Homo sapiens: one gene and its partner. The protein of the gene in region 2 purifies or fractionates together with the protein of the main gene of each other region. This does not show direct contact. Each region holds a gene or a part of one and is shown on either strand. Other genes may lie near its edges.

What was found. Proteins that work in one complex are often made in the same cells at the same time.
Region 1: the proteins of GALNT2 (region 2) and HACD3 fractionate together in Homo sapiens (co-fractionation; one large-scale study listed by BioGRID). This does not show direct contact.

Annotation. Positions count from the first base shown.
Region 1 is NC_000015.10:65,554,463-65,557,962, forward strand, and holds part of HACD3 (very-long-chain (3R)-3-hydroxyacyl-CoA dehydratase 3), read left to right. Parts: intron 1-424; coding exon 425-498; intron 499-2,276; coding exon 2,277-2,441; intron 2,442-3,500. UniProt on the Homo sapiens protein: Catalyzes the third of the four reactions of the long-chain fatty acids elongation cycle. This endoplasmic reticulum-bound enzymatic process, allows the addition of two carbons to the chain of long- and very long-chain fatty acids/VLCFAs per cycle.
Region 2 is NC_000001.11:230,247,771-230,253,274, forward strand, and holds part of GALNT2 (polypeptide N-acetylgalactosaminyltransferase 2 precursor), read left to right. Parts: intron 1-1,413; coding exon 1,414-1,501; intron 1,502-2,686; coding exon 2,687-2,790; intron 2,791-5,504. UniProt on the Homo sapiens protein: Catalyzes the initial reaction in O-linked oligosaccharide biosynthesis, the transfer of an N-acetyl-D-galactosamine residue to a serine or threonine residue on the protein receptor.

The DNA.
Region 1 (3,500 bases), on a different chromosome or scaffold from region 2:
GCCTTTTGGCTACAATCAAGTATGATATTCGTGCCAGGTACAGTGGCTCATGTCTGTAATCCCAGCACTTTGGGAGGCTGAGGCGGGTGGATCACAAGGTCAGGAGATCGAGACCATCCTGGTTAACACGGTGAAACCCCGTCTCTACTAAAAATAAAAAAAATTATCTGGGCATGGTGGCGGGAGCCTGTAGTCCCAGCTACTCGGGAGGCTGAGGCAGGAGAATGGCATGAACCCGGGAGGCGGAGCTTGCAGTGAGCCGAGATCATGCCACTGCACTCCAGCCTGGGCAACAGAGCAAGACTCTGTCTCAAAAAAAAAAAAGTGTAATATTCGCATACTTGGGAAAGAACTGCACCAAGCTGGCTTTTGGATGGCCTTGCTCTGCTCAAGTTTGCAGTAACCCACATTTCTTTCTTTATAGCTCAAGGACATGGTGCCAAAGGAGACAATGTCTATGAATTTCACCTGGAGTTCTTAGACCTTGTGAAACCAGAGGTATGTTCTTTCCTTTCTCACTTCCCTTCCCATTTTAGGAAATGAATACCAGTAGTTTAGTGAAATGGGGAGCAGGGTTTGTGGAGAGAAGAAGATAAAAACCAAAGGGGAATAATAGAGTTCTTTTATTTGGAACAGAGCCCAGGTTTTAGCTGCAGAGGAATGGGAAAGTCAGAGACCCCAAGTTGAGTCAGGGCCCTGCCATTTATTAGCAGTGTGATCTTGAACAAGTCTCTTAACTTCTTCGAGTTCTGGTGTTCTCATGTGTTAAATGAAGGTCTGGACTAAGTGATCCTTCCAGCTCTGATATTCTCTGGTTTTAGTGATGGCAGAGGAATATGGCACCCATTGAGAACAGAGTTACATAGAGTGGTTGAAGCCCCCACCAGGGGTTACTTTCATGTGACTTTGCCACAGTTGCAGGTGAGAAAAATAGAAATCAGAAAGGGTGAAGGCAGCTGGCCTTCAGAAAGAATGCTGCAGATATCATCAAAACTTCCCTTCCCTTAGAGCCTGAGGAAGCTTCTCTCATAAGCAGGGAGAGAATCCAATAGATGGGGTATTTTGGCTTCTGGAATTACACTTAGCTCTGGTGGCTTGAGCTTCTTGATTTCCGTGCGCAGGTGCTCAGTTGTTTTGAGAAAGCATGAATAATAACCAGTGGTACAGTGGGCAGAGAACCTGTCATGGAGCTTCCTTTGGAGAAAAGGGACAGGACATGTAGACAAACAATGAGCTGGAATGGCCTATAAGAATTTGAGTTTAGTTGGGAAGACTCCCCAAATTGACCCCTGTGAAAAAATCTGTAACTGATCCAATACAGTTCTGATCTTGATGCAGGTGTTTCTAAAACCGGGGTCTGCTGAGCCAGGACAGTCATTTTCATGGGAGGAAAATTTATAAGCTGAGGGTAATTGGATGCAGTACCCTTGAGAGGGTGATTGGACATAGTACCTTGCATGATGTGGCTGTGGCAGGAGGTTCATGCTAGTTCCCTCCAGCCTAACCAGGAACTATTTGCCTTTCTTATCCTGATATCCTCCTGTATCATTCACTGGGGGAATCAGAGAAGGACATTATGTCCTTACCAGTTCTCCATGCCAGCCGTTGGTCTAGATCAACCTTTTTGGCACCAGGGACCAATTTTGTGGAAGGCACTTTTTCCACAGATGGTGGAATGGGGATGGTTTCAGGGTGATTCAAATGCATTACATTTGTTGTGCACTTTATTTCTGTTATTATTACATTGTAATATATAATGAATACAACTCACCATAATGTAGAATCAGTGAGAGCCCTGAGCTTGTTTTCTTGCAACTAGACAGTCCCATCTGGGGGTGATGGGAGACAGTGACAGATCATCAGGCATTATAGTCTCATAAAGAGTGAGCAACCTAGATTCCTTGCATGCACAATTCACAATAGAGTTCACGCTCCTATGTGAATCTTGTGCCAATGCTGATCTGACAGGAGGCAGGGCTTAGGCAGTAATGCAAGTGATGGAGAGCGAGTCTAAATATAGGTGAAGTTTCACTCACTTGCCCACCACTCAGCTCCTCCTGTGTGGCCCGATTCCCAACAGGCCATGGACCAGTATCAGTCCATGGCCCAGGAGTTGGAGACCCCTGGTCTAGATGTTCCCTTTGCATCAGGACTTGCAGGACCAGAGAAAGAAGGAGAATAAATATATCCTGCAGCTTCTATGTACGGCGCCCCTGGCATGGTGCTGCTTCAGGGAACAGAAGAGGGCATTCTCACATTTTCACTTTCTCTCCTAGCCTGTTTACAAACTGACCCAGAGGCAGGTAAACATTACAGTACAGAAGAAAGTGAGTCAGTGGTGGGAGAGACTCACAAAGCAGGAAAAGCGACCACTGTTTTTGGCTCCTGACTTTGATCGTTGGCTGGATGAATCTGATGCGGAAATGGAGCTCAGAGCTAAGGTTAGTAAGGATCCTAGGATCTAGCCATTGAGGACAAATCATGGGGAACCCACGTTATTCAGGCCACTTCAGATACCTCTCGGTCTGAAAGAATAGCTACAAAGTTACAAATTCATTTAAAGACCTGGTGATGTGATTTTCAAGAAGTATTGGCTATGTATTTTATAGACTTTCCTTCGGTTGAAATCTGTCTGATGTTTCTCTTACAACTAGACTAAGGTGATAGATGTTGAGGAGAAGACCACTGAAGTAAAGTGCAATTCTTATCACATCATATCAAGAGTACATACGGCCGGGCACGGTGGCTCACGCCTGTAATCCCAGCACTTTGGGAGGCCAAGGTGCGTGGATCACGAGGTCAGGAGATAGAGACCATCCTGGCTAGCACAGTGAAACCCTGTCTCTACTAAAAATACAAAAAATTAGCCGGGCGTGGTGGTGCATGCCTGTAGTCGGAGCTGCTCAGGAGGCTGAGGCAGGAGAATGGCGTGAACTCGGGAGGCGGGGCTTGCCGTGAGCCGAGATCACGCCACTGCACTCCAGCCTGGGCAACAGAGCGAGAGTCTCAAAAAAAAAAAAAAAAAGTACATACTGTCAACGTGACACATCACTGTTGATATTAACCATGGGTTAGCTGGCTTGAGGTGACGCTTATCAGGTTTCTCTACCATAAGGTTATTTTCCTCTTGGCTCTCCTTGGAAGGAAGTCACTATGTGTAGCCTACATTTAAGGAGCAGGGAGTTATGCTTCCTGTCCTTTAGATGGAGGGAGTATCTACATAATTTATTTGGAATTCTTCTGCATAGGAGAATAATTATGCATGTCTATTGTCTCCCATTTATTTATTCAATCATTTATATCATGTGAGTACATGGGTATTTATTTTATACTTTGAGTTATAATCTAATATTATTTATTTTGTTGCTCAAATTCTTCCAGCTTTGGCACTAACTGGCCTTTGGTTATGTCCTCATCCTGCCCATCTTTCATTTGGCTTTTGTATCTTTTTGAGAAAGCGCCATCATTATGGGACTGTTTTTTTTTTTTTTTTTGAGCAC
Region 2 (5,504 bases):
AATTCCTTTAGAAAAAAAATCAAGGATGCCATTCTTAACAGATCTTTAATCTGCTATAGCCTCTCTCTTTGGACCAAATTAATAAAATAAATAATAAGATAATAGTAAACATCAAAAAAACAAAGGAAAGGTTATGTCAGCTAATCCTTAACCTTCTCTGTTAGTGAAACAGCCAGGACATTGTTTTTCTGGTTTTCCTTCGTGGCCTTTGAGGCACCATGATAAGAGCCAGCTCAGGGGCCCGCAGGGGTCTCCTCTCTGTGCATTTCTGTCCCCACTGCCTGGGCCCCTGTCCATTTCCCTCTCTCTTTGCCTGAGGCCACTCTATCCTGCAGTGAGGGAGCTGGGAGGCCTCTTTGTCCAGAGCCATAAATTCTTGGCCAGCCCAGGACACTCAGAAACCCTCACCCGCCATCCTTCAGTCACTGGGGCTGTCAGGGCGGACAGACTATGAATTCAAAGCATGCAGACAAATCCAAACTTAGGCATTGCAAAAGCCCTGTTGACAAAAAGCCTGATGGCAGAGAGCTTAAGAGGATTGAAAGATGCATGCCCTAGAGTCATTAGGTTTTGCTGTCAGACCCTTGGAATTGGAAATGCAGCACCATGAGCCATGTGTTTGCCAAGAAGTGGCCTCCTGATGCACCAGGACAGCTTCCGCAGGTGGAGCCTGCTGGCCTCCAAGAGGCACTATGTGTGTGACCCTGGGAGCAAGAGCGAGACCTGAGGCCCTGCAGATGCCCACAACCAAGTCCGGGTACAGGGTCTAGGCTCTTCTATCCTCAGGGGTCTGTGGATTCCAAAAATGAAATGCAACAGGTGCCAAATATATCTGAAATTGAAGCTTATTTGCCCAGCTTGGCAACTTCCGCTGGCTCATTTTCCCTTAAAGTTTTCATATTCCCAGCATGTTCCCACTCCATTCTTGCTGCAAATACAGTCTGAAGTTTGCTGGCCCAGGGAACTGACAAAGCCTCGTTCCCTCCCCAGCATTGCCTTCCCCTGGGGCAGTGTTGGAGGTACCACGGCTTGATTTTCATGTTGGATGCTCTTTTTCCTCACATCCTTACAGCCCTTGGACATGCCCTGGTTATCACCACACAGACCCCAGTTCTCTCCCCATATTTCATTTTTTCCTATGCATTTCAATATTAGAAAAGCCTGACTCACATTTTCTTTAGGGAGGGGCAGGGAGAAGATTTCAACATTCACCCTCACTGCCGGTCTCTCTCTTCAGCTACACCCACGCCCCCAGTCCCCTTCTCTCTCCTCCACACCTTCTTTTTTGGCTTTGTTTTGGTTTTCATTGAGTTCTGTCCAAACATCGAATATTTTTAAGCTGTGAGGAATGGGGGTGTCGGGAGGAAGTGGCCAGTCTCTTGTCAACACCCTGTTTCTTTTCCTGGCTGGCAGGTTTTGATTGGAACTTGGTATTCAAGTGGGATTACATGACGCCTGAGCAGAGAAGGTCCCGGCAGGGGAACCCAGTCGCCCCTATAAAGTAAGTGCCAGCATCCTTCAGGGTGCCCCTCCCAGATGAGACCCCAGGTTCCAGCTTCTTTGCTGGGCCCGCACCGCCTGGAGACCCAGTGGGGGCTGTTCACCTTCTGCCCTCCGGTTTCCCCTCGTCTCAGCTCAAAGATGAGCACCTTCCACCAGGTCATAGAATAAAATCCTTGGAGATTTCTTTTCCACAGTTGAAGTCTCACATAGGTTTATAAGGCCTATCTGCTAGGTCTGTGCATTCCTGTATGTTGATAATGTAGAGCGTTTCTGTAGCAGAGCAGGATCTCCGAGCTGACCCCAGGCCCAGGAAAAGGGGCTTGGTGGGCAGCAGGAGGCTTACTGCTGCTACTGCCCAGCAGGCCTTTGCTCTCCTGCAGAGGAAGGAGCCCATGCTCATGAAGCCCATGCTTTTAAGATTCCCAGGCCGGGCGGTGGGCTTTCTGGTTGAGAGTCAGGATGCCTTCTCTAGCTGGGGAGAGAAGGGGGCCACCTCTTCCAAGTTGGCACACGGTTAAGTGAGATAGCATTCACAGAGTACTTAGCGCTGAAATATATTTGCTGACATTTAGCCAACATCTGCAGTGTGCCATAGACCTTCCCAGCACTTTACACTGAATTCGCACAGCATCGCTTCTGGGAACAAAGTAGGGAGCTCAGTGTACATCTGTTGTCAACCCCTTCCTGGGATGATGAAGTGAGGAGCATGGTGGGTTCCCTTGTAGGAGGTGGAGTCTCATCTATGATAGTGATAATGAGAGCTGGTGCTGTGGAGCATTTCCTAAGCGTGCTCAGGGCTTTATGCCCATGATTTTTTGCAATCCTCGTAGCTACCCTATAAGGAAACTGACACACAGAAAGGCCGAGTTCTTTGCCTATGGCAGCATGTCAGTGAGTAGTGATCCAGCCCCAGCAGTCGCTCCCACATAGGGGAGGCTCAGTCCAGCCCCTGGCACTGTGGGAACATCCAGGCAGGGACAGTGGGGGAGGCATTTGAAGGCAGCAGTGGTGAAGCAGAGAGAGTGGCATGCTGGGCACTGAGCAGAAAACAGTGGCAGTGTGGCTGTTCTGAAGATCAGCTTATTGTTAGGGAATCAAGGCTTGGCCTTGGCGCAAGGGTGCTGGCAATCTAACCTTGACTTTGCCCTCTCCTCCCTCCCCCCTCTTCTTTCTGCCTCTTTAGAACCCCCATGATTGCTGGTGGGCTGTTTGTGATGGATAAGTTCTATTTTGAAGAACTGGGGAAGTACGACATGATGATGGATGTGTGGGGAGGAGAGAACCTAGGTATGTACAAGCCTCAAATCTCAGGACAGAGAAGTGCCTCAGCTCTGCAAAAGGCAGGGTGCCAATTGGAAAAAAAATTTAAAAGGCTTCAGAGTGACCATTCACTGGGCTTAATCGATCCTTGCAAACACATATGTAACACCCCTTTTGCTCTTGAAAGTCTCATGAGTTGGGCATTAAAATGTGCCTCCCTAGGTTAGAGTGGAGGATGCCAGAATACGGATAAAGTCTTTGAAGGGAAATGCAAACTCTTTCAAGGCGTCTGAACCCAAGTGTTTGGAATGTTGCAGGCTTGCAAAAACAGAGGGAAACAGTCCAGGAGCTCAGATTCATGCTGAGTGGTGGAGAGTGGAAAATGAACCCCGGCGAGGCTGGTGGGATTGATTGAATTGAAATCATGAAAATCCGATGGGGCAGGGAGGCCTTGGCACTTAATCCCTTCTCGACTACCTTTGCGAATGGTTCTCATTTGTTTTTCTGTTTGTTTGTTTTTTTGTTTTTAAATACCCCATGCAAATTATTTTTACCCAGGTTTAGGCACAGCAAAATTTTGCACATTGTGGTCTATATTGGTAGCCTTATATTTACTGCATAAAAGATGAAAAGATGTGTTTTGTTTGTTTAGGGTTTGGAGTGGGGGAGATCTTTTTTGCTTGTTTCAATTAAAGCCTTTTGTTTCAAATGCTTGACATTCTGAGCGAATTCTCCTGGGCTGCTGAGTGTTGTTAACTTACATTCGTCCTTGGGTGAGTGTACCCTGGAGGACAGGGGAGAAGGAAAGGGGAAAATGAGGCCACTCATTTTTAATAGTTTTGAGACTTTGAAAGTTTTTGTTACTTTAAAAGAAAAGACTAGCCTAGCCTATTATTTTTCCATTGTTTTATGATGTTGAAGTCAGTGATACCATCTCATCTTTGAGGATTTCTCTGCCTTGGTTTGATGTTGAAAGCTTCTTTAGGCTCGATTACTATACTGCACGGGTGGAGAGACCGTGAGTCAAACTCCTTTTGGGTTGTTTTAAAAAAATGATACATTAACCTCTAGGGAAAGCTTGGATTGAAGTCACTTGAGTACAAAAGGCTTCAGAATTGTTAACCCTCTAAAGAGAGTTCTGTCACCCTGTTCCATGGGTATCCCCTAATGGTTTAGTGGAAATCCAGCAGGCCAGGGTCGCCCAGTAGGGCAGCGTATCGTGTAGGTGGCCATTTCTCAAAAACAGTGTGGTTTTCAGAAGTTTGCATACTATTAGCTGAAATGAGACATCAGCCAGCATTTTGTGTCATCGTGTAGGAAGAGTGTTGATTTACATATCTAAGGAGGCATTCACCCAGAGACTGGGGGGTAGATTTGTTGTAAGGAGCTGCTTTATTGTGGTTTGGTGTTTGTATTTATTATGTAGCTGTGCTAGAAGGTTCTAGGGTCTGAGCGGTTCAGGTTGGGGTGAAGATGAACCCTGCAAGCAGGAGCACATCTCTGCCCAGGAAGGCTGGGGCATCTGTCCCTCCGTGAGGGGCTCTCCTGGGTTATGCCAAGGACTTGGACTCCCAGTGAGGTTTGGAGGGCTCAAGAGCTTCACGTGAGAAGGCCATGCCGTGAGCCTTTCTCCTTAGCACTGCTCTAGCTTCTGCTTCTGGGGGCCGTGCACACTACTAGCCATTGCCAACCTGAGGGGCCTCTGTGGGTGTGCATTGGGAGAGGTGTATGGTGCAGAGAGGCCCGAGTAAGATCCAAAACCACCTCCTCAACGTGTGCCCCGCTGGAATGACCAGAGCTTCCCATTTTCCTAATCATGTAAGTCCTTATGTCATTTAAGCAATTAAAATGGAGGACCAAGAACCTAACCCTTAACTCTAACAATGGGGGTAAGGCTCCTTGGGGGCATCATCTGTGTTTCTCTACATCCCTGTCATGCAAGGATGATGCTAAGTACTTCCAGGGAATCATCTGTTTGTGCTTTCTTAACGGAGTGTGGTCTGCAGAGGTCATGACACCTTGCCCAGGGTCTCAGAACCAAGATGTAAACACTAACTGCCTAATTAAAAAGCCATTGAGTTTTACTGAGTAATTATCCTCAAAGTTATAGGGTTCAAATGAAATCAACGCTGAAGATACTGTAGTTATACTTAGCCTTGAAAATCTCCCACAAAAGCCCTGGAAGGATCCCTTGTTGGCTTAACAGATTCCCCATAGAGAAGCCAAGGGGATTTCCTAGCCCCTAATTCTAAATCTTGTGGTGAGGCAAATGGATATTTAAATTTTATTTTCTGAAATAGAGACAACTTCTTTTTTTTTTTTTTTTTTTTTTGAGATGGAGTCTCGCTCTGTCACCAGGCTGGAGTCCAGTGGCACATTCTTGGCTCACCGCAACGTTCGCCTCCCGGGTTCAAGTGATTCTCCTGCCTCAGCCTCCCAAGTAACTGGGATTACAGGCATGTGCCACCGTGCCCGGCTAATTTTTTGTATTTTTAGTAGAGACAGGGTTTCTCCATGTTGGTCAGGCTGGTCTCAAACTCCCAACCTCAGGTGATCCGCCTGCCTCGGCCTCCCAAAGTGTTGGGATTACAGGCATGAGCCACTGCGCCCAGCCGACAACTTCTTAGGTTGTGTTGGGAACTGTAAAAAGTAAAGTCGGAAACTTTCACTGCTTATGCTTATGTGATTGTAACCATACATTTTCTATTAGTACAAGAGAGTTGCTTATTAAAGCCCCGTAA